Linked DNA regions of Homo sapiens. The protein of the gene in region 5 purifies or fractionates together with the protein of the main gene of each other region. This does not show direct contact. Each region holds a gene or a part of one and is shown on either strand. Other genes may lie near its edges. The genes, in order: STRN, CTTNBP2, STRIP2, DSC1, PRDM14, CTTNBP2NL and SLMAP.

Region 1 (3,500 bases), on a different chromosome or scaffold from region 5:
TGTCTTTAGTTCATTTATTCTGTGACTGTTTTCAAAATTTCAATGTTAGGAAAGAGAATTGCCTGATAAATCTGGAAATATTTATAAATTACAATTTCCTGCTATATGTGGGTGCCATCTATGGCTTAGTCTAGAGCCACTAACGCTGTTCATTCTACAATGTTCTGTGAGATTTTGCTACTTTAAGTAAGTTCTATCATCACTTACATGGAGATAATTCTCAAATTTAAATCTCAGCTCTTTTTGCATACAAAGTTCTGTATCACATCATTATCATCTAAAGATATATATGACAAAGAGGGCTTCTTAATCCTTAAATCCCTTTATCACTCTTCCTCATCATAATAGAAATGGTCATTTGACAGAACTAGGTTTGGAATCCTAAAAGTCAGCATCCTAACTGTATTTTTTGTGTTAGTAAGTTCCAAAGAAACTTCAATTATACACACAATGAGACAGGCAAGCACATATCATTAAGCCTATATTACAGTGAACACATCAAGGTTCAGAAAAAGTTGTGACTCCTCCACAATCAGGTGACAAAATCAGTACCTATTCTAACTTCTGACTCTCTCCCAACCTGATGGTTCATGCAGATCACACAACTGTCAAAATTGGTTCCTAAATGATCACACATTCTTCCTGAAAGGCTTTTATTAAAAAGAAATCAGTAATTTAAAACCTCAGTGATTTCTGTTAAGCTTTTTTTAAGAGAAAAGAAAAACTGACATAAAGAAAACACTAATTGAAGGTATGTCAAAGTTTTAAAAATTAAATTATGGTCCAGGGAGAGGAAGGGGTGTCCTTGTAAAATATATTACTGGAACAACTCTCAAAATTTGAATATAAATAGTAATTCAGATAATAGTATTGTGTCAATGTTAAGTTTCCGGATTTTGATCATTGTAATACACTACATCAGAGAATGCCCTTGATCTTAGAATTACACGCTAAAGGATCTAGGGGAATAGGAGCATGACGTCTCTCATATGGTTCAGAATTAAAAATTATACACATATATAGAGTGAAAAAGCAAATGTGACAAAATGTTAAAAACTGCTAAATATGTGTGAAGGGTAGCCAGAAGTTCTCGTACTATTTTTGTACCTTTTCTGCAAGTTTAAAATTATTTCAAAATAGAGTTTAAAAAATTTTTTGAACCCTAGAATAGGTATTACAAGTTTATATTCACATAATAGAAAATACAGCTAAAAATAGTCTAATCTTACAGGATTTTCATGTGGCTCCTAGAAATATAACATCTTAAAAACTGAAGACAGTCTTTTCCCAATGCTAGTGGCAGGTAATTACCCAGCCTGTTATTTAAATATAAAATGTGGCTGGGCACGGTAGCTCACACCTGTAATCGCAGCACTTTAGGAGGCCGAGGCAGGCGGATCACTTGAGGTCAGGAGTTCGAGACCAGCCTGGCCAACATGGTGAAACTCTGTCTCTACGCAAAATACAAAAATGAACCAGATATGGTGGCACACGCCTGTGGTCCCAGCTACTTGGGAGGCTGAGGCAGGAGAATCGCTTGAGCCCAGGAGGTGGAGGTTGCAGTAAGCTGAGATCGCACCACTGCACTCCAGCCTGGGCAACAGAGCGAGACTCTGTCTCAAAAAAAAATAAATATAAAACAAAAACTCACTTGACCATGTGGAGTAAGTTCTTAGTCAGTTACACCTGGTTTAGATCCTAAACAAAGAGATGTTTATTTATAAAATTCAGACTACGCATTATTTCCTCCACAGATAATACTCCATTGAGCAACACCCGTGGTAAAGTCCAGCAAGAGAATAACAGTAACAACAAAAAAAGAAATACTTTAAGTGAAATATCCCATATATTCTGAGAGAGACGTTTCAGAGAATAGCCTCAATTGCTTTGAGAGCTAGAAAATAAATATGATTGAAATCAAATCATGGAAACAGGCAAAAGAAAGTTCTTATTTGGTAACACTTTTAAGGAAGCTTCTCCACTTGATGATAAATCAGAGAAGTCGGCAGAATGCAAAGAACACTACTCATACCTAGCTTGTGACGTATCTGCTTCAACTACCTTTGACTTTACCACAGTCAAATCGCCATTGACATCAATGAGAAGAAGGGTAATTTATTCCTATTCTAACAAACATCCTTCATCACTTTAAACTCTATATAAAACTCACTTTCTCCTTGAAGCTTGTTTGGTCCTTTCATTTTTTTAAAAAAATATGCTAAATTCCAAAACAGAACAACACAATCAATTATAAATAACAAGGGGTAGTTCACAGTAAAACATAATAAGAGACTAATTTAAGTTTTCTTTATACAACTTTAAAAGTAAAAAACATAATTTAGAAAATGTCAGGACATATTACAACTCAAAATAATGATCATTTATTCCAGTAATGTTGCCTTTGTTAAAAACATTCTTGGAAGTTTTCTCAAAATGTTTCCAGTGTCAAGTAAAAAGTCCTATTAATTTAGAGTCACATCTCTTGGGGGAAAATGTGGATTCACTCGCCTAGTTCTCTTTATCCATCTTATCTACCAGACTTGACATCTTATTAACCTGCAGTCATTAAAAAGCACTATTTCCACTCAGGATGTTCACAAATTGGCCATATAATCTCTGAAGGTAATTACAAAAATGTTCTCATCCTTTCTAATTTCATATTAGTTTTTTATTTTGCTACTGTAGCTTTGAGTCATATATTTAAACATGATTTTAAATTTATTGAGAGTCTAAAACCTGTAATTTCTTGCTGAAAAAAATTCTCCTTTTCCAATTCTATCACCTGAGTTTAATTTATTTTCCTGTCTCTCTCGTTTACATCCAAGTAGCTCAAAGTTCTATTCATGCTTACTTCCCCAAACAAGTCTCAGCATATCAGAAGAAAACAATGAACAACAGGTTAGGAAGGGAAAATGATGAAAACCACAAAGGAATAAAGAAACTTTTTGAGAGAGAGAGAGACAGAGAGTGAGAACACCACAAGAACATATGTAAACATATGCATGTACATGTTCACACATGCATGTGCACACACACAACATATCATCACTTTTAAAGCTAGTTCTCAGATTAAAACAAGAGTATATGTATGTCGTATTCTTCATCAACTGCAACCTAAACTGTGATTGTCTAGATTATGGCTAACGACAGAAAGCAATGGTTAAGAAAGCCAAAAACCAAAAAAGAGTCTGTAATATCTTCTTCATAACCTGAAAAAGCACTTATTTCCTGACTTCCTGCATCCAATAAGAAGCTTCAGGTTTGGAATTCTGAGTGCCACAACATGATCTGTATTGAGCTGTACCAAATCATACTATTAATATAAAATTAAGTTGATTTAAAATATGAAATTACGAGAAATGAAAAATAGAATTTCCTATTCAGAATAAATATGGCTTTCTTCAAATAGAATTGAAAATTAATCATTTAGTATAAAATAAAACTTGACCCATAACAGCTCAAATGCTATTTCAAACAGTATAGTTATAAATGTACATAAA
Region 2 (3,500 bases), on a different chromosome or scaffold from region 5:
CTTGGGACCTCCATAATTCTTGACAAAGACTATATTCCATATAGGAGAGGTCAAAAATGATTCCTAAGAATCTTGAGACTCTGGATGTAAAAAAGACTTTAATTTAACTGACATAATAATGAAGAAAGTGGTAATTATATCAATAAGTGTATTTATTTTGTAGCAAAATTCTAAATATATATTTAATATAGTACTTCTTTCCCACCAATTAGCTGTTATAAAAATGGTGGTTTGTCTTACAATAGAGAAAATATACATATACTTTTTAGAGACAGGGTCTTGCTCTAATACTCAGGCTGGAGTTCGGTGGCTTAATCAAAGCTCACTGCAGTCTTGACCTCCTGGGCTCAATTGATCCTCCTGCCTCAGCCTCCCAACTCAATAGCTGGGACTACAGGTACATGCCACTATGCCTGGCTAATTTTTTTTTTTAAATAGAGATGGGGTCTCACTACGTTGCCTGGGCTGACCTTTAACTCCTGGCCTCAAGTGATCCTCCCCTCTCAACTTCCCAATGATGGGATTATAGGCATGAACCACTACATCCAGCTAAGAAGATATTATTTCTATCCCCTGCTTTCCAAAATAGACTTCTGCCCATGGCACCAGAAACTATAGAATCAAATCTGCTTGCTGGTCACAGAACCATTACTAAACTGGATGGTAACAAATTTTTTCTCATTTCAACTTTCTCCTGATTTTCTATTTCATTAACCTTATTGTATATATGTCTGTTCTCATAAGATGCTTCAAAGGAAAACAGTAAGTACTGAACATATGTCTCAATAAAGGGAAAGCTTTTCAATTCATTAACAGAATGCAGGTTTTTTGGAGGGTGTGCATACAATACTTGATGAAACTTCTTATGTGGTACCTCACTCAGGAGACTCTGCATAGCAAGCCAAACATAACTTGGATGAGAATTTTCTAATAGAGGAAAAACCTAGCTCTCAGCAAAAATGCAGCTGCCCTAGGAAGCACACAGTAGGCAAGCTGTGGCCATCCTCTGAAAGAGCAGAGAGCACTGGCACTCCGTGTCAGTGACAGGAGGTGGCACAAGGCAGCCTGGTCAGCATTCTCACCCTCAAACATCTGAATTGGCCACGTCTCTATCATAAGCAGAAAGATAAGGAAAAATGGCACTTACTTCACTGTCACTTGGGCATGCCCAGGAACTACAGGACAAGACAGGAAATATTTTGGTCCAAGAAGTGCTTCAGGTGTGCCCAAGCGGGCCAGGCAGGAGTTAAGCTGACGCCAGACGGACAGAGCCCAGTCGACAATCTTGCACACAGGATCGCAGGGGGAGGGCGCCTGACCTTTGAACTAGAGAGACAGGGAGGTGGAACCCAGGGGCTTGGTTTAGAACATTTTGTTTTTAGAAGCCCAAAATTAAAAATATAAAACTTTAAATCAAAATTGAAAAGTAGCTGAATCTTATTTAACTTTACTTGGGATGGCTGAAGGAGGGATAATAACACATACTATAGTTGTGCAAACGTGTTAGTGTGATAAGCATTTTTCTCCTTTAATTCTCACCATGAGCCTGAGTTAGGCATTTTTACCCCATTTTACATATCAGGAGCCTGAGGCAGGAAGAAAAAATAACTCGCCCAAGGTCCCACAGGTAATAGTGGCAAAGCCAGGGCTAGAGTCTATTTATATTTTTTATTAAGGTATAATTGACAAAAATTATATATATTTGTGGTATATATCATGATGTTTTGATGTATACATTGTGAAATTATTAAATTAAGCTGACTAACATATCCATCCCTTTACATACTTATTTTTATTTAAGATCTACTCTCAGCAATCTGCAAGTATACATTAACTACATAGGGCTTATCTTTAATAGAAAAATAGGATACAGCATCTCGCTGAAATAATAAAGGAGTCATTTATCACATTTAAAAGGAATTCAGTAATCACTATTAAGCTAAAGAACTTCCTCTTCTTCCTCAGGCTTAACATTTCTGAAGCTCTCTGTTTAAGCCTCACTTTCTACCGTCAGCCAGGGCTGAAAGAACAGGCTTAGCTTTGTGGGCAGCTGACAGAGGGACAGGGATCTCCCCAGCTGCCTCATCAAGACCACATGTAGAGGAAGGGAGAAGGAGGGTAGAGCTCTCATTGTAACTCGGTCCCCAGGGAAACGTTACTTTTTCTGGGAGGACTGAATTATTCTCTTAATGACTGTCTAATAAACTGCTTCTAAAGCTCAGACTGTTAGACATCGTAACGGAATCACATTTCACAGTACCCAAAGGCAGAATGTAATCTGTCTTTCCTAAGGACCTGAACAAACAGGAAGGGTGTCCACCTCTCTCCAAAGTGCAGATGTTGTTTATATGAAATTTCTCCTTTTGCAAGTTGGCTGTATTATGGGAAAAGTGGTTATCGGACAGTACATTAAAAACTGGTGTTTCATTAAAAGGTCTATCCAATAAATAGACTTTCTAGTAACCACATGTTTTTATTTCCTTCCCCAGAGATACATTCCTTCAGTGTTAATGGATAATTTTGCATAGAGGTGTGTATGCCTACTATGTATTCTATGCCTATTTGTTATTGCTGCTAAGAAGAAAAAAATCCATGTAAGTTAGTGTACTCATGAAATACAGAGGAAACAAAAGAAAAGGTGTGAAAAGCTAATGAAGAGCAAGTGGTCAGTTCTGGTGCGGTTTGATGGAGTGGAGAAAGCCACCCACCAGGTACTGCAATTGCCTTCCTTTTTTTTTTCTTTTGAATTTTACCAGCTGGAAAAATGAGGAAATTGAGCCAGGCCCTTTATCTTTCAGATCCCTTCCAGACTGGCAGTCTTGAAGTACAGACAGACACAAGCTGCTATGGTAATTCAAAAGAAGAACTGACTAAATACAGCGTGGTCAAGAAAGACAAATAGATGAGGTGGGGACTTCAGCTGGGTCTCTCACAGGATGTCCAGGACATGGTATTGGTGAGGGGAGGTGGGAAGAGTGTCCCAAATATGGAAGAGGGAAGGAACTGTGGAGGAGCGGTCAAAATGGATGCTGATGTTTGCAAATAACAAAAGGGATGAATAAATGACAGGCTTCTACAAGTAAACAGTCTATGTAACTGTTACTAATTCAAGGTGCTGGATCTGATCCCCCACCTAGTATGTCCCCTGAACGAATGACTTCAAGGCCACGTAGTTGTCCCTGAGTTTTCCACATGCCAACCTCCTCCTCCCTAGGCCTGAGATGTGTTGCAAGTGCTGCTCCTTCTGCCCAGACCCCCTGCTTCCCTATTCTCAGCAAACCCTTCTTCCTTGACATAACAAATTAGCATGACCTGCAAATCCTTCAATGTGACCACAGATAGAGAGGCCTCCACCCCAAATTCCTAAAATAAGTACTCTTCCCAACTTCCGCCCGAGTTTCTATAGTGGTACCTTACCTGTTTCTTTCACAGCACATATTAGCCACCTGTTTAATTAGCATGATTTGAGTGTTGTACCCATGAAGTCGGACAGAATCAGA
Region 3 (3,500 bases), on a different chromosome or scaffold from region 5:
GCAGGCCCTTGGGAAAAGCCACCCGCTCAGCAGAGAGGGGTGCCTGTGAGGGTGGAGGTGGCACCAGAGGGTCCTGCTCTAGCAGGTCTAGCTCTCCATCCAAGGTTCGTTCTCCATCACCAGCAGACTCCTCTTCCTCCTCTGTGGCGGGCTCCTCAGTCTTGAAGAGATCCCTTTCATTGTAGATGTCCAGGCTGTCCTGCTTAGTGAGGAGTTGCTGGAGGGGAAAGAAGGGAGGGTAGGCATGCAGAGATCTCACTCTGGGCATCCTTGTCTGAGGCCACCCCATATCCACAGGCCTCCACATTTCAGGGAACATGGAATCTGAACACAGCCCTTGCGAAAACATCCAATTCCCCACCTTAACCTACTGTCCCCACCCGGCCCAATAACAGGACAAGAAGTTCTCAGGTAACCCTGCCATTAGCCAGGGAACATAGCATAGATAATCCCAAAGTCACAATTACTTAGCTTTCAGAAAGCAGTGATGCCTTTTTTTGCCAGCACTTTCCTTCCTAATTATGCTCTGCTTAGGTGAACATTCAATTAGTTTGCCTTCTGTGAGCATACACCAGCTGGCTGACTGAGGAAGAGGAGGACAGAAGCTTGCTGCTAGGCAGAGGGAAGCAAGTTTGGAATTTTAAATCTTGTGACAAAGAAAAAAAGATTGGACAGAAATAGGCCAAAAAGTTAACAGTGACTGTCTCTGGTTGTTAAGATTGTGGGTGATTTTTCTTTTCTCCCTTCATCACATTTTTATATTTGTTCCAAATTTTCTACAATGAGTAAGCATTACTTTATAAAACAAAAATAAAGTTAAAAAATTTTATTGCAGATAATGGAGACTGGATTACTGAGCACTACTATCTAGCCCTGTTGATAAACTGAAGTGGGTCAGGCAGGGGAGTTTGTAAGAACATAGTCAGATCTCAGTATAACTTTTCATTCTGACCTTTTCAGGACAGCAGACTATAGTCATGTGCTGCACAACGATGCTTCAGTCAACAATGGACTGCATATGTAATTGTGGACCCATAAGATTATAATACTGTATTTTTATTGGCCTTTTCTAGGTTGAGATACACAAACACCATTGGGTTACAATTGCATATGGTGTTCGGTATAGTAACCTGCTGTACAGGTTTGTAGTCTAGGAACAATAGGCTATATGCCTAGGTGTGCAGTAGGCTATACCATCTGGGTTTGTGTAAGTACACTCTATGATGTTTGCTCAGTGACAAAATTGCATAATGACACATTTTTCAGATTGTATCCCTGTCGTTTAGTGTCACATGGTTATATACATAGACCCCTACCCAGTCATCTCTTAAATGTAAGCCTTTGGTTCCAGGGCCAGTTAAGAGTGTGGCTGGCTGACAGTAAAACTTCCTGGTGCTTCAAAATAGTAAAATGCCTTACCCCAGAAAAATGGATTTGCTTGGAGACCTGTTCCGGTATCCTGGGTCCCTATCCCCAGGATTATACCCTTAATTGTTATTCAGAATGTAAGGAACTCCAGGCACTGAGGTCCAGGCCAATGATTCTGTAGCAAGACATGGCTATATATGACATGATATCACAGTGTCACATCACAACAGCGCAGGGGGCTGTCAGGGCTGGGGGACAGAGGCCAAACTAGAGACCCTAAGATTTCAGGTTGGTCATAGGGCCAACCTGGGCAGGATGAGCCGGGTCATTTACTGCTTTTTCCTACCACACCCAGAGTAACTTAGAATCTTGATTTTTGGCCAGTCGGTGTCCCAATACCATTGTCTGCTTCAGTCCATACCCTTCGAGAGCCACGGCGGCCTCGCAGCTTGGAGGGTGGGGGTGCCAGCTGAGACTCTCCCAGGTCAAGAGTGTAAGAGGGCGGGGAGGCAGCACGCATGCTCTTCACCACCTGGATACTGTCTTCAGCCAGTGGAGGCAGGCCCAATTCTGCCCGCTTCTGTACTTTGAGAGTCTGCAGATGCTCAAATCCACCGAGGGTAAACTAAGGAAGAAACAGGAAAGGGGCAGAGAGAGAGGAAGGAAGGGAAGTAAGAGAGAGCCAAGGTCAGGGAAACATGGATGAAAAGAAAGGGCCACAACCTCCAGTCCCTTCAGACCTTTTCCTTAATAAGGAGGTAGTAAAACATAAAGAGGCAAATATGATTACCATCCCCACGGCAACTGAGGAGCTCAGGGGTCAGGATAAGGCATTATTTACTGCCCCAGTATGGGAAATATCACAGAATTTAGGAAAGGAATTCCTGCGGGCCTCCTCAAAAAAAAAAAAAAAGAAAAAAAAGAAACTATCGACTTTTTTAAGGAACACCATCCAGGTGCTATAAACCCCCAGAGTCACTCAATTTCCTCTGCAGTCAAGAGGCAGTTCCCCCTATTAGGCCTGCCTTGTGAGATGGGAGCCAAAAATGAAGGATCAGGTTGAATAACTAGTAACAGAAATGTAACCACATATTTATAAGAACTTCATTATTTTTTAAAAAGCAAATCCTGGCCAGGCACAATGGCTCATGCCTGTAATCCCAACATTTTGGGAAGCCAAGGTGAAAGGATTGCTTGAGACCAGGAGTTCAAGACCAGCCCAGGCAACACAGGGAGGCCTGTCTGTAAGAAAAAATTATTTTTATTAAAAAAAAAATACAAAACCTCTGTTTATCTGGAGGGAGGGCAGGCACTCACCCCAACCTTTTACAGCTAGAGAAATTGAGGCACAGAGAGTTGCCCAAAGTTTCTCAGTATCAGCAAAGCCCAGATCTACCAACTTTCAACCAGTGTTCTCTCCATCAAACATTGGCTTTAATAAGAGAAGGTACCACTGACATCCCCAATTTATGGAGTGGCATCTCCCATCCATCCAATAGAAACATGAAACCCATTCTAACATAGAACATCTGATGTCTCTAGGACAGCCTTGTTGCCCCTCCATATTAGCAGTTGGCTAAGGGCTGCCTGTTCTGCTCCCTGGATCCAGCCTCCTGGAATGAGACTAGAAGAAACTGAGGTGGCATAGGGCATTGCTGATCTGATAATGTGGGAGTGGGGAGAATTACTCACCATGACCACCTTCCAGAGCAGGAGCAGGACCTTCTTTATGGGGAAGTGAGGAGCCAGGCCACTGCAGAACTTGGTAACCATGGAGAAGAGTAAAAGGGCAAAAGGCTCCTCATTATGCATGGAGAAGCCTAGGGGTGAGGAGAGAGGGGAGTGAGAAAGTGAGGATGAGGCAGCTAAAACCTTTTTCATGTAACCCTGATTCTGGACACACACAGGAAGGCACTCACCTCCCCTGAAGAATACCAGAGTACTTGGTCCTGAGAAGGAGGCTTAGCCCCCAGAAGGAAGCCCCTCAAGGGCAGGAAGGGACGCCATGGAATTAAAATGGCATAGGCCCCAGAGCTTAGGGTGACGCTTTGGGGTTGGATGCCAAACTAGAAGTAACAATAATGAAGACATTGCTTTCTGGCTAAAGGACTCAATGTCATTCACTTTTCCAC
Region 4 (3,500 bases), on a different chromosome or scaffold from region 5:
AGAGTGATAAAGTGAATTTGAAAAATGGAAACTAACAATTCATTTTCATTTTTTTTCACCATAGGCAAATCACTTGCCTGCTGTGCCTCTCTGTTCCTCATACATAAAATCAGAATAATAGTATCATAGGTGTGATGGGTTGAATTGAGTCCCCTAAAAATTCATATGCCCTAACCCTCAGTAACTCAGAATGTGAACTTATTTGGAAATAGGGTCATTGTAGATGTAATTAGCTAAGATGAGGTTATATGGGATTAGAGTGGGTCCCTAAGCGAATATAATCAGTATCCTTATAAAAAGGGGAAATTTGGACACAGACATGCACACATGGAGAATCGCCATATGAAGATTTGATTTCCACTGCCATAAGCCAGGGAATTGGCAGAAGCTAGGAGAGAGTCCTGGAACAGATCCCTCCCCAGTTCCTTCAGAGGGAGCACGGACCTGCCAACACCTTGATCTCTGATTTCTAGTCTCCAGATCTGTGAAACAATACTTGTCTGTTGTTTAAGTCACTCAGTTTGTTGTGACAGCCCTAGCCCTGTAGAATTGGGAGGTTTAAATGATTTAAAACACTGAGGGCACTTGAAACTCTGCTTAGCATAGTAAGTGCTCAATAAACATTAGTGATATTATCATTGACATTGTTGAGTAATAATCTGTCATCATTTGTTCACCGTACAATTCAAAGGGATGTGAAATCTGATTTACCGTTACTTCTTCTCCAGGTCCTTCAGTATTTGATACAATTAAATTTTGCTGGGCTATGTCTTCTGGAAAACATTTCTTGACTGTTCTCTTAGCAGTGACACAGAAACATGTAAACAGAATACCTAAAAAGCAAAAAAGATCAAAGTAAAACACAGACATTAAATCATTTGATTACATGATTTTTTAAAGTCTTCTTGCATATGTCTCAAAAAATTCATTCCACAAATTGAGCTCTTCAGGTCACAAGATTTAAAAACAGAATATTTTAAAAATGTATTTATACTATTTGTAGCTTAGAGAGATTAATAATAGCTCTCTTCCCAGGTCCAGAATTAACTTATATGTGTCTTTTATTTCTTCTACATTGAAATGGTAACTTCATCTAACTGATATTTAAGATAGCATCATTAGTAGTTAAAATCATACAGAACACACTTAAAGGGCTTAAAATAACAAGACTAAGAACATTAGGCATAAATACAAACAAGAAAGGCAATTACATAAAATTGGTGTCTGGTTTCAAAAATGTACATCAACTAATAAAGTGCTAAGAGGAATATCCAATTTAATCTGAAACTCAAATCAATGAATTAGGATACAGTAAAGATTATAGGAAAAGTTTGTAAATGCAAATGGGTTCTTTGGGGTCAGAGGGAGAGAGAAAGAAAAAGAAAAGGAAAAGAAGAGAGAAACAGAAAGAAAGAAAGAGAAAAAGGCAGTCTTAATTAAGCGTGGGCAATATTTCTATTACTTTTGTACCTCCAAATAACAGTTTGCACAATGCAAAATCTTAGCATCCTTTGCCTGTATTGCTTTTCCTCAGTGGCTCATATGACCATTTTTCACTCACGGAAGTCTTACGATGATGCTAAATCACTTCATTAATAATATGGAACAGAAATATCTGAGTAAATTTTGGAATAGCTCTGTTTTCACAAATTCTTTTTGTATGTATGTATTCCCTACATAAACATGGCTGGTTGAAAGACTATATTATTTTACATGGAGGGAATCTTAATAGTTTTACCCAGCCTCTTCATTTTACACATGGAAAAATGAGTTCAAAAAGGAGGAAATAATTTACCCAATGTCTCACAGATAATTATTGAAGAACTAAGGCTACCACCTCTGAAACTGACTTTAAATTTAATCTGCTGTTACTGATACATTTATCACTCAGAGCCCCAAGACATAAAATAGATACAATATTTTTAAAAGAACACACTTCCCAAAGGCTATTAATATAAAAAACTTCCATGTTTTAAAAATACTAGATAAAATTTTAGCTAACACATTCTAGATAATGATACTTAATATACTTACATAATAACAATACAGAACCCAACACCATAGCAAGAATAGCCCATCTTCCAAGTATTACATTTGGTCTAACGTCTCTTGTACTTTTATCCTTCATTCTACACTCAGATGGAGTTGAACAGTCACATACTCTCACTGTTAACATATGTGTTGCAACTAAACCATGCCTGTCTTTTATTTGAATAGGCACAGAATAATAGTTATAATCAAGATTTTGCCGTTGACGAAGAATGGCAGTTTTACCTAGGGAAAAAAAAGACAGAATATATATGGATTGGCTGTTTAGATGGCAGTATTATTCCTACTCAATATTCTCAGTGGAAGGGAATCAATTTAGAATAAAAACTCGAATTTTTCTTTTTTTTTTTGAATTTGTGATTTCCCAGAAGAGCCAGAAAAGTAATTGATGTTGCTTTATGCTGATATTAAACTAATCTGTACTTAACATGTTGCTCAAATGTTAATTAAAAAGGGACTTATATGTTTTCTTAAAAGATATTCAGAACAAGAGTCTAAGCTCATCACAATGGCACTAATTTTTTTTAAAGATTAGGTATTGTTGTTTTTAGGGTTAATAAAATAATTTCCTAAAATAAATGTGTATTTATTATGATAAACTAAGGTGAAAGAACCATCACCAATCTGAAGTCCGTATTGACTATAAAATTTAGCATGATTACATACCATCCTTTTCTTCTATGTTCCAGTTTTTACTGGCAGAATTATCCAGAAAGAATTGAAAAGGTGGTCCATTTTCAGGTCCATCTGGATCTACAGGTTTCAGAACAGCAAAATCCTCATTATTCTGACAAATGGTCACTTCTTTGTCAATTTGAGGTGCGTGATCGTTGTAATCATCCAAATGAACTACTAATGTTCCAGTGCAAGATCGGCCAACTAAGATTAATTAAAAATAGGTTATTTCTTCACATGAAAATGCATTTATTTTCAACAATTTATAAAATACACAGTTGACATCTGCTTTCTACTAGCTGTCTGAGCTTGAGTTCGCATACATGCTTCCCAGATTTCAGACACCAAGACTACAAAATAGGGACATGTCACTTTTCTTTGAAGACTAGGGCTGGATCAGATAATTTCTTCAGATGCTTTTCAAAACTAAAAGGTATGAGATTATGAGGAAGGTCACTACAGAATGACCTGTTGAAAATAAAACAGATGTCTTACATCCTTCTTTATGAAGCGCATATATTCATCCTTAGAATACAAACACTTTACATTTGGTTGTCAGTCACTTTCTCAGCTTCTCCATTGCATCATATACTTTTTTCCCAAACCTTGAAAACTTCTCTAGAAATGCACTAAGTGTTCCCCTTCCTGTCTGCTTTGTAGCATTCGGTTGCCACTCCTAGGAATACTTTTCTCCTCTTCTTTGCCAGATAGCACACTATTATCTTCAAGAATCTACTTAAATGTCACGTCCTCATGAAACTCGTGACTTCCACAGA
Region 5 (3,500 bases):
GAGACAATTCTGTGATGTGGGAGGTAAATCTGTTTCTGGTGGGTCTGCTGCTGAAAATGGGGCGGGAGACTAGTCCGGGGAAATCTTGGCCTTTGCCCTTTTGGGAGAGTCCTGGTCAGAGAGAGAGGACATCCAGGGCAGATATCTGTGGTTTGTGTTGCCTGTAAAAGGAAGGAACGGCCAGTGTTTGCTCCATGAGGATAGCACCTCTGCATGAATTCTGTGTTTTGTGGGTGCCTTAAGTCATTTTAGTCTGGAAGATTAGCAATGGAATATACATTTAAAGAATCAATATGTTGTATTATATTTATAGACAAAACTAAATGCTTTAGATATTATAGAGTGCTGAAACTATGCTAAAGAGAATAAAAACAAGTTTTAAAATTCAATATTATTCACCTATAAAATTAGTCAAGGATTAAAAAAAAAATAACCAGATACTCTTCAAGATCTAGTGATGATATATTAGGGATATGCTAGTGGGACTGCAGTTTATTACCTGCAGGAGAAAATTTGTCAGAATGTATCAGATACCTTAAAATGTTCAAAGTCCCTTGACCCTGAATTTCTACTTCTAGGAATATAGTACAGGAAAATAATCTGAAATTGAGGCTATGTGGAATATGTTAATCCTAGGGTTGTTTATAATAACAAAATGTTGGAGACAGCGAAATTGCCAGCAGCAGAGAAAGAAGTAATCTTTCTTTGTTTTTTTTTTTTTGTTTTTTTTTTCTTGAGACGGAGTTTTTGTCTGTTACCCAGGTTGGAGTGCAGTGGCGTGATCTCAGCTCACTGTGACCTCCACCTCCTGGGTTCAAGCAATTCTCTTGCCTCAGTCTTCCGAGTAGCTAGGATTACAGGCATGTGCCACCATGCCCGGCTAATTTTTGTATTTTTAGTAGAGAGGGGTTTCACCATGTTGGCCAGGCTGGTCTCGAACTCCTGACCTCATGATCCGCCTGCTTTGGCCTCCCAAAGTGCGGGGATTACAGGTGTGAGCCACCAGGCCCGGCCTTGAAAGAAATAATCTATAGCTCCATTAATATGCATGAAACCTAACTGGGAGTAAAATATAAAACTATTCAGTTGTGTTTAAGTGGTGGAATTAAATAAAACCTTTTTGTTTCACTTACCTCTGCTTATGAAATTAACATGTGCTCACTATAGGAATTTGGGAAGCAAGAAAGTGATAAAAGTAAGAATCTTTTAGAATATGTCACATTAGGCAGGCTCAGTGGCTTACACCTGTAATTCTAGCACTTTAGGAGGCCAAGGTGGGAGGATCACTTGAACCCAGGAGTTTGAGGCCAGCCTAGGAAAGAGTGAGGCCCTGTCTCTACAAAAAATTTTTTTAAAAAAATTTGCCAGGCGTGATGGTGCATGCCTTTAGTTCCAGCTACTCAGGGGGCTAAGGTGGGAGGATCATTTGAGCCCAGGAATTCGAGGCTACTGTGACCTGTGATTGAGCCACTGCACTCCAGTCTGGGCAACAGAGTGAGACTCTGTCTCTGAAAAAAACAAACAAACCCAATATGTGACATTACCTAGAGAGGTGTCCTTAAACTAACAAATCTATGTTGGCATAAGTAAATTTATAAACTACTTGTAATGACATAAAAATCAGAATGATAGAAGTGTATTTGGTGGACTCAAGTGTGATATTTAGGTTACAAGTATTAAAAAATTTATTTTATAGATTAGACCAAAAAAGAAGTACAATACAAACTTCATGTCTTATTTCATTTAGATCTTTGAAGATGGTCATTTGAGCCACTTTATAGATGGAAAAGGAGGTACGGGGAACTGGATGTCCTATGTCAACTGTGCCCGCTTCCCCAAGGAGCAGAACCTAGTTGCTGTGCAGTGTCAAGGGCATATATTTTATGAGAGCTGCAAAGAGATCCATCAGAACCAAGAGCTCCTTGTGTGGTATGGAGACTGCTATGAGAAATTTCTGGATATTCCTGTGAGCCTTCAGGTCACAGAGCCGGGGAAGCAGCCATCTGGGCCCTCTGAAGGTGAGTGCACACCCTCGCCTTGCCCAATGAGGGCATCCCAGTAGAAGGACTGGGCTCTTTTCCACAAACCCTCCATGCACAGCTCCTCCCTCCTAAAGGCTAATGCAGAGGACTAACCGAGAGTGTCTCTAACCAGGGGGGAATTACCCAGGTGAAGGAAAGCATCCTCAATTTCCCAAAGCTGCGGAAGCTACTCCTATTTATAAAGATATATACTCCTATTTATAAAGACTTGTTCTTCTTCCCTACCTTCCACCCCAAGAGTAAAAGAAAACGTACTAAATGGATGTAACTTCTACCATAGGTGAGCCAGTTTCTGATTCATCTCTGCCCAGGCTAATGTAGCTGAAGTCTAATCACTAGAGCAGTGTTTTTCAAATGGTGGGTTGCAGAGTTGCATGTCTTAGTGGGGTGGGAAATCAATTTAGTGGTCAAGACCCACATTAAAAAAAAAAAAAAGTATAGAGTAGAATAGAAAATATTGATGGGAATCCCTTAAGAGTAAGGATTGTTTTGTGAAATTTCTATTTCACATGGGTATATGTGGGTATGGTGGGTGTCAAGCATAAAATACATTGCCTACTATGGGTCTCAGGCAAGTTTGAGAAATACTGAGCTGGACTCTCACTCTCAAACTTTAATGTGGGAATGAATACCCAGGGATCTTCATGATGCTGGTTCTCATTCAGGGTAGGGGCCCAGGATTTGGTATTTTTATCAACTTGCAGGGAGTGCTGCTGGTCCTGGTCCCTGGTCCACATTCCAGTAGCAAGGGGCGAGGGAACCACCAGCCCACTCTAGGGGTGAGACTTTGGAATTTGCATGTTAAATAAGCTCTCCAAGTGATTTCTATATACACTGAAGTTTAGGAACTACTAATCTAGTAGGTGGGACAAGATAAATGTAAATTCCTGTAAATAAGAGAGAAGGCAGGCCGGATACTGTGGCTCACACCTGTAATCTCAGCACTTTTGGAGGCGGAGATGGGCGGATCACTTGAGGTCAGGACTTCAAGACTAGCCTGGCCAACATGGTAAAACCTCATCTCAGGTCGGGCACAGTGGCTCACGCCTCTAATCCCAGCACTTTGGGATGCCGAAATGGGCAGATCACCAGGTCAGGAGATCAAGACCATCCTGGCTAACGTGGTGAAAACCCGTCTCTACTAAAAATACAAAAAATTAGCGGGGCGTAGTGGCACACACCTGTAGTTCCAGCTACTCAGGAGGCTGAGGCAGGAGAATCATTTGAACCCAGGAGACAGAGGTTGCAATATGCCAAGACCGCACCACTGCACTCCAGCCTGGGCAACAGAGTAAGACTCCGTCTCCAAAAAAAAAAAAAGAGAGAGAGAGAAGGCAAATTATTATGATGTAATAAATGTGTAAGGAGCAGGTTTAAAAAAAAAATGGCCCAGGCGTGGTGGCCCACGCCTGTAATCCCAGCACTTTGGGAGGTGAGGCGGGCGGATCACGAGGTCAG
Region 6 (3,500 bases), on a different chromosome or scaffold from region 5:
GAGCTGAGATCACACCACTGTAATCCAGCTTGGGTGACAGAGCAAGACTGTCTCAAAAAAAAAAAAAAAAACACAAAACAAACAAACAAAAAAACAGGCTTTGAGCCAGTTCTCCTGTTTTCTATTCTACATTTCACCTCTCCTCTGCAGTACCTGCCACCTCCAGGTTCCATCTCTTTGGGGCTCTGCAAGGCAAAACAGCTTCCCTCCTTCAAAGTAAAGTAGTTACCACAACTCCAGCCTCTTTTCTTCTTCAAAATATTATTAAAATTTTTTCTCTGCTAGAGGCTCTCTCCTTTGTGGGGTTTTAGTCTTTTTATTCCATTTCTGTAATTTTTGAGGACTCCCAAAAGGGAGAAGATAAGACTTACCACTTTTGGCCAAAAGCATGTCTTTCTATTAAATTGAAAAATTAGATTAAAAAAAGGAAATGTGCCAAATTTTTTTTCTTTCATTTATTTTGAGAGACAGGGTCTCGCTGTGTTGCCTGGGCGGGAGTACAGTGGCTATTAACAGGTGCGATCATAGCACCCTATAGCCTGGAACTCTTGGGCTCCAGTGATCCACCTCAGCCTCCCTAGTATCTGGGACTACAAGCATACACCACAGCACCAGTCTCTTCTTTTTTTTTTTTTTTTTTTTTTTTTTTAGACAGAGTTTCACTCTTGTTGCTCAGGCTGGAGTGCAATGGCACAATCTTGGCTCACCACAACCTCTGCCTACTGGGTTCAAGCGATTCTCCTGCCTCAGCCTCCCGAGTAGCTGGGATTACAGGCATGTGCCACCATGCCTGGCTAATTTTGTATTTTTAGTAGAGACAGGGTTTCTCCATGTTGGTCAGGCTGGTCTCGAACTCCCAACCTCAGGTGATCCACCTGCTTTGGCCTCCCAAAGTGCTGAGATTACAGGCATGAGCCACCACTCCTGGCCTCTTTTTTTTTTTTTGAGACAAAGTCTCACTCCGTTGCCTGGGCTGGAGTGCAACGGCATAATCATGGCTCACTGCAACCTCGACCTCCCTGGGCTGAGGTGATCCTTCCACCTCAGCCTCCTGAGTAGCTGGGACTACATGCACACCTCACCATGCCTGGCTAATTTTTGTACTTTTTTGTAGAAATGGGGTTTTGGGTTGGGCACAGTGGGTCACACCTGTAATCCCATCACTTTGGGAAGCTGAGGCAGAAGGACCACTTGAGTCCAGGTGTTTGAGACCAGCCTGGGCAACATGGCGACACCCCATTTCTACAAAAAATCAGCAGGCCATAGTGGTGTATGCCTGTAGTCTCAGCTGCTCAGGAGGCTGAGGTGGGAGGATCACTTGAGCCTAGGAGGCAAAGATTGCAGTGAGCCGAGATGATGCCACTGCATTTCAGCTTGGGTGAGAGTAAGACCCTGTCTCCTCAAAAGGAAGGAAGGGGGTGGGGGAGGGAGAGGGAGAGGGAGAAATAAATGGCTGGTCTCAAACTCCTGTGCTCAAGCAATCCTCCTGCCTCTGCCTCCCAAAAGTGCTGGGATTACAGGCATGAGCTCATTTTTATTTTTATAGACAGGTTTCATGTCCCAGAAAATTTACTCTCTTCACTCATAAAAATTTTTAGTGAGAAGACTAAGAAATGGCCTTTGGGACAAGAGTGCTCTACCCTGGAGGTCTGGGCCAAGGCACTTCTGAAGCATGAGCAGAAGCTACTAAGCAATCAGAATATTTGCAGTTGTAGATGGGATTATGTGAAAAATGTCTCTTTAAATTTGTATTCTTGGCCATGTGTGATGGCTCACACCTGTAATCCCAGCATTTTGGGAGGCTGAGGCGGGTGGATCACTTGAGCCCAGGAGTTCCAGACCAGCCTGGGCAAGATGGCAAAACCCCATCTCTACAAAAAATACTAAAATCAGCTGGGCGTGGTGGCGCACACCTGTAGTCCCAGCTACTTGGGAGGCTGAGAGGTGGGAGAATCTCTTGAGCTCGGGAGGCCAAGGCAGCAGTGAGCCATGATTGCACTACTACAGTCCAGCCTGGGTGACAAAGCAAGACCCTGTCTCGAAAAATAAATATATTTGTCTTCTCCTTAAAATTGGGCTTAATCCTTTGGCACCAGGGTAAGTGAAATAGGGGTAGGCAAGTTAAATAAAAGGGCGTATGAAAAATCTCCATTTAAGGTCTCTATATTTGAGCCTTTTTACATGCAGTAGGAAGTCAAGAGAGTCTATCCACCTCTTATCTAACTATATAAAAATGTATATTATTAGTTAAACAAGGCACACTTAGAATGTCACCTATTTGAAATGTTGAATTTCAGGCTCCTTCTTTGGTGCCTCTGGTGATTTGAGAATTGAGAAGAAAATCTCAGCTTTCAGGTTTCTGTGGTCCTGTCTTGCTCCATCACCTACACCTGGCCCCTAGTAACACCAAACTGCCTGCAGTTTCTTGGAATTTCTGTTAATTCTCGACACCTCCTCAACCCCTCTAGCTAATTAGTTGCTCTCTTCTCTCTGTTTGCATATCATTCTCTACATACTTCAAGTAAAGTAAGTATCTTACTGTTTAACACAGAGCTTTCATGTCTTTCACTGTAAGGCAGTGTGCTCCTTGATAGCCCTTGCTGGGTTTCATTTATTCGTTTGTTTGTTTGATCTCTGGAACTATCTAAGGTGCCTGATTTGGCACTTATTATTGGTTGTATTAATAAATGTGACTCCTTGATATTTGAAAATGAAATTTAAAAAATTCTTTAAAGGTGATCCTAGACCTTGAGGAAGAAAGGCAGCGGCATGCACAGGATACGGCTGAAGGAGATGATGTCACCTACATGCTAGAGAAGGAAAGAGAGAGGCTGACTCAACAGGTAATTAAGGTAGAGGGATTCACAGTAGCATTTGCCTGGAACAGCATTTCCCAAAGATTATTCTGCAGGATGCCAACTGGTATTGTTCAGAAAAGGGGCTTTGTGGTCAAATAAGTTTAGGAACTACTGGATTAAGCAAAGTTAAACAGGTTTCTAACTTTGTTAGGATCTTTAGTATGCAGAAGCACATTGTGAGTCTTCAAGAACAAGATAGGGTATTCTGTGTTTAGCAAATCCATGGTTTTATAAAATCTTTTATTGGCATAGATCCCTCACTGTGGGATTATTATTGTTCCGTAGAACACTCTTTGGGGAATGGTAACTTAGCGCTTGTAGCTCTCAAACTTTTGACTTAGAACCCCCAGTAAGAAGTGACATTTTATGTCACAACCCAGTATATGTAGACATACACAGTTACGCCTGAAACAAAAATCTCATGAAATCATATATAACCCCTACTGCTACAGTACACATTGATGTTTTCTGTTTATATATTTTTTTAAAATTCTAGTCGTGGCTCAGTTAGTTTCCCCATCCATTAATGGATCTCAGAGTTTGAAAAACACTGAGTTTCTTCAACCCTTTCCCTCTCACGCAGAGTCTCTGCCTCAAATAGGGTTGGGAAGACAATTAAAACAGGCTATATTTGTGTAAAAA
Region 7 (3,500 bases), on a different chromosome or scaffold from region 5:
TTTATATCTGAAAAACAGAGAGTTCTTGCATACTTGTGCAATTCTTTTTCTTGCCGTTGCAGTTCTGATGATAGCAAAACATTTTCCCTTTTTAGAGAATGGCATTCGGTTTCCAATGCATTCCATTCCTTTCTCAACTTCTCTAGTTCACCTAAAATAGTCCCAAAACATATTTGTTAATACAGAAATATAACTTCCATAATACTTCAAAGGATAAAGGAAAAGATTTCAGAGGAGAACATACTTTTTGCCCCCTTAAAAGCAAGTAGATTTTACATGGTTAATTATATGATTCCTGTTACTTTGCATGTATACCTCAAGGACTGCTATCAGCTTGTACTTGAACAATAGTATTTTTTTCCACTTCACTTTTATAAGACAAGCAATTTTTAACAATTTTAAAATAAAATATAAAACCGTAAAAAAATATAAATTTAAGTAGAACTTGCAGACCTGAAAATACATTTTTAGCTCCGATTTAAAAACATTGGTTTATACAACTGATAGCTAACAAAGAAAAAAAAAGCCTGCATGTTTCTTTTTTAAACAAGTTAAGAAGTTATCATTGTCAAAAGTTAACAGCTTTATGTAAAATACATTTATTCACCTTGCAACCTTGTTGCTTCTTCTCTCTGCTGGTCCTCACACTGTTGACATCTAAGCTGAAAACTGTTTTGCAGACTTGTGATTTCTTTCTCATATTCAGACGCTGCTTTCCGCCACCGCTCAAGCTCAGCTCTCACCTTCTTAAGCTCTTCTTGTAAAGAAGCAATGTCAGTGTCCCGCTCAGAGGCAACCTTTGCTGCTGCTTGATGAAGGAGCAAAATTTCATCTCGGGCACTAAGCAATTCATCTCTAGTACTTGTGATTTCACTGTCCTTCTCCTCCCGGAGATTCTCAGTATCGATGTGTAACCTCTGCAATTGGGCTGCAAAAGTATATCCATCATTTTCTTGGCCCATTAGAATAAAAGAATAATCCATACAGGATTGTAGCTAATGCATAACCTGGGTTGTCAGAGCTGTTGCTTTTGATTAAAGTGTATAAACAATCCACGTTTGATGCAGAAAGCGTCAAAATACAGATAGCAAAGAGGAAAAAAAAACCAAAGTGATCTTCATCTCCCCAACACACAGAAAATTACTTCTGATATTCCTTCTGGATTTTTTCCTATGCATTTATAAACATGTAAAAACAAACATTAAATAGGGAGTGATCACAATAAATGCAGTGTTCCCTATCCTTCTGTTGATGAAACTCTTTCAACAAAAAAATAGTTATAGTATATATAACTTATTTGCCCAACCCTTTATTTTTGACATTTTAGGCTGTTCAGTGTTTAAACACTATATACAATCCTTTTTTTTTTTTTTTTTTTTTTTTTTAGGGTGAATCCTATGTGTAGAATTGCTTGGTCAAATGGTAAGCAATAAAAGCAATAAACAGTTGACGCCCTTGATTCGTTTTTCTGTTCAAATGTCAATTCTTTAAAGAGGCCTTTTCTGATGACTCATGTGAAAAACAGCTCACTGTCATTCTCTGGCTCTTTACTCTGCTTTATTTTCCTTTGAAGTCCTTATTGGACATCATATTATCTATTAATTTGCTTATTGTTTATCTTTTCTACTGGACTGTACACCTCATGTGTGTAGGGCATTTGTTTTGCTCACAGCTGTCAGGTATTGGGGATACCCCAATATCTAACACAGTAAACAATCAAGAATTATTGGTTGAATTAATGAGTTAATAAAATTAATACTGCCTCATTGAAGGGTTATATAGATTTTTAAAAATACCTGGTTTTGTGCTCATGACCCAAACTGGAAACAATTTGTATAAAATCAAACTTGGCGCAGAACAAGAAAATTAATATTGGTTACCATATTATAAGGAAATTGTAGATTTAAAAAGTTCCAAAGGAAAATAATTAATTACAAGAGGATTTAGGGATGGGAGAAAGGGAGGTTGCTACATAAGTAAACATTAAGATATTAGACTTTCTAAGTTTGTAGGAAGGACTGAGAGGTAACAAGTTTGGAATCTGAAAGGGCACAATGGCCAGAGAAGATGATCATGATTTGTTGATACAGTCGTGAAATACACATGCTGGCACCAGGGGGCACTCAATAATGCCTGGGCAAGACAGGTTTTAAAAAAAAGGTAGCACTATGTCACAGAACCTTTAGGAAAAATTGCCCCTACACAGTCTACGATGAAAATAGAGATCCAAATCAGATTTATGTAAATTAATGGATAATGACATTAAACTACAATAGGAGTTTTAAGAGCTTTCAATTTAAAAACACATATGACATACCCTAGAAATTCTAATCTGACCAAAATAAAATTCTAATTTTAAATAACTCAAATGTTCCACTCAAAAAATAGGACCCCAAAGACTAGTTTTTCTCTGCGATATTTTTGGGCAAGTATCTTGGGCCTCGTACAATGACTCTCCCTTCTCTTCTGAATAGTGATTACTTGTCTATTTAATTTCTTCCCCACCTATCTCTCAAGCTAAAATTTTAAAACAACATTGGCTCCTTCTTTGACAAGAAGGCAAATTAATTTTACTTTAGGAATTTTACAATGGCATGGGAAAGGAAGACCTCTCCTGGGGTATCATATAATTTCCTCATAATATACCAGGAGCTCAAGCTTGAAGTAAACATTCGACAGGCAGGGGTCTTTCTGGAAATTTCTGTAATAACCCTGTAATAGCCCAGACAAAGAAATAGCAAAATGGTGATAAGAAGAACAGCCATTATCAACGAAAATCAGTGCAGAGACTACTATCCTATTCCACGTGATATATAATTTTTCTTGAGGCCAGGTGCAGTGGCTCATGCCTGTAATCTCTGCACTTTGGGAGGCCAAGGTGGGTGGATCACGAGGTCAGGAGTTTGAGACCAGCCTGGCCAATATAGTGAAACCCCATCTCTGCTAAAAATACAAAAATTAGCTGGGCATGGTGGCATGCACCTGTAGTCCCAGCTACTTGGGAGGCTCCAGAATCACTTGAACTCGGGAGACGGAGGTTGTAGTGAGCCAAGATCACCACTGCACTCCAGCCTGGGCAACAGAGCAAGACTATGTCTCAAAAAAACAAGCAAAAAAATATTTTCTTGCAATACAAGTGTGTTCTGAGCATTAGATGGCAATATATCTACACCAGCCATCAATATATACATATACCAGCAAGCTCAAAGTGCTGACGCAGAGTAGCTCAAACAGATTTCCTATCCAAAGGCCCTCTGTAGGAACTCACGACATAACTCAGAAAGTGACAGTCTTACCAACTCCAAATCTTCACCTCTGCTTTTTCCATTCTAAGTGTCTAATACGAGAGTACTGGACAATCTTCCCTTGAATTTTCTTTAAAAAAAAAAAAAAAATAGGCCAGGCGCAGTGGCTCACACCTGTAATCCCAGCACTTTGGGAGGCCAAGATTGGTGGATCACCTGAGGTTGGGAGTTTGAGATCAGCCTGACCAACATGGA

Evidence for each region.
Region 1: the proteins of PRDM14 (region 5) and STRN purify together in Homo sapiens (affinity purification with mass spectrometry; 2 studies listed by BioGRID and IntAct, with this or other methods). This does not show direct contact.
Region 2: the proteins of PRDM14 (region 5) and CTTNBP2 purify together in Homo sapiens (affinity purification with mass spectrometry; 2 studies listed by BioGRID and IntAct, with this or other methods). This does not show direct contact.
Region 3: the proteins of PRDM14 (region 5) and STRIP2 purify together in Homo sapiens (affinity purification with mass spectrometry; 2 studies listed by BioGRID and IntAct, with this or other methods). This does not show direct contact.
Region 4: the proteins of PRDM14 (region 5) and DSC1 purify together in Homo sapiens (affinity purification with mass spectrometry, with the first as the bait; one large-scale study listed by BioGRID). This does not show direct contact.
Region 6: the proteins of PRDM14 (region 5) and CTTNBP2NL purify together in Homo sapiens (affinity purification with mass spectrometry; 2 studies listed by BioGRID and IntAct, with this or other methods). This does not show direct contact.
Region 7: the proteins of PRDM14 (region 5) and SLMAP purify together in Homo sapiens (affinity purification with mass spectrometry; 2 studies listed by BioGRID and IntAct, with this or other methods). This does not show direct contact.

Annotation. Positions count from the first base shown.
Region 1 is NC_000002.12:36,851,537-36,855,036, forward strand, and holds part of STRN (striatin), read right to left. Parts: intron 1-3,500. UniProt on the Homo sapiens protein: Calmodulin-binding scaffolding protein which is the center of the striatin-interacting phosphatase and kinase (STRIPAK) complexes.
Region 2 is NC_000007.14:117,726,942-117,730,441, forward strand, and holds part of CTTNBP2 (cortactin-binding protein 2), read right to left. Parts: intron 3,085-3,500; exon of another isoform or gene 2,799-3,084; intron 2,712-2,798; exon of another isoform or gene 2,490-2,711; intron 1,327-2,489; coding exon 1,148-1,326; intron 1-1,147. UniProt on the Homo sapiens protein: Regulates the dendritic spine distribution of CTTN/cortactin in hippocampal neurons, and thus controls dendritic spinogenesis and dendritic spine maintenance.
Region 3 is NC_000007.14:129,454,932-129,458,431, reverse strand, and holds part of STRIP2 (striatin-interacting protein 2), read right to left. Parts: intron 3,189-3,500; coding exon 3,061-3,188; intron 1,994-3,060; coding exon 1,790-1,993; intron 1,733-1,789; exon of another isoform or gene 1,420-1,732; intron 610-1,419; exon of another isoform or gene 350-609; coding exon of another isoform or gene 218-349; coding exon 1-217. UniProt on the Homo sapiens protein: Plays a role in the regulation of cell morphology and cytoskeletal organization. Required in the control of cell shape. Calmodulin-binding scaffolding protein which is the center of the striatin-interacting phosphatase and kinase (STRIPAK) complexes.
Region 4 is NC_000018.10:31,131,857-31,135,356, forward strand, and holds part of DSC1 (desmocollin-1 isoform Dsc1a preproprotein), read right to left. Parts: intron 2,929-3,500; coding exon 2,716-2,928; intron 2,275-2,715; coding exon 2,035-2,274; intron 834-2,034; coding exon 712-833; intron 1-711. UniProt on the Homo sapiens protein: A component of desmosome cell-cell junctions which are required for positive regulation of cellular adhesion.
Region 5 is NC_000008.11:70,064,753-70,068,252, reverse strand, and holds part of PRDM14 (PR domain zinc finger protein 14), read left to right. Parts: coding exon 1-23; intron 24-1,747; coding exon 1,748-2,018; intron 2,019-3,500. UniProt on the Homo sapiens protein: Transcription factor that has both positive and negative roles on transcription. Required for the maintenance of embryonic stem cell identity and the reacquisition of pluripotency in somatic cells.
Region 6 is NC_000001.11:112,451,714-112,455,213, forward strand, and holds part of CTTNBP2NL (CTTNBP2 N-terminal-like protein), read left to right. Parts: intron 1-2,735; coding exon 2,736-2,843; intron 2,844-3,500. UniProt on the Homo sapiens protein: Regulates lamellipodial actin dynamics in a CTTN-dependent manner. Associates with core striatin-interacting phosphatase and kinase (STRIPAK) complex to form CTTNBP2NL-STRIPAK complexes.
Region 7 is NC_000003.12:57,909,809-57,913,308, reverse strand, and holds part of SLMAP (sarcolemmal membrane-associated protein), read right to left. Parts: intron 1,423-3,500; exon of another isoform or gene 1,388-1,422; intron 1,171-1,387; coding exon of another isoform or gene 1,118-1,170; exon of another isoform or gene 929-1,117; coding exon 608-928; intron 152-607; coding exon 34-151; coding exon of another isoform or gene 1-33. UniProt on the Homo sapiens protein: Associates with the striatin-interacting phosphatase and kinase (STRIPAK) core complex, forming the extended (SIKE1:SLMAP)STRIPAK complex.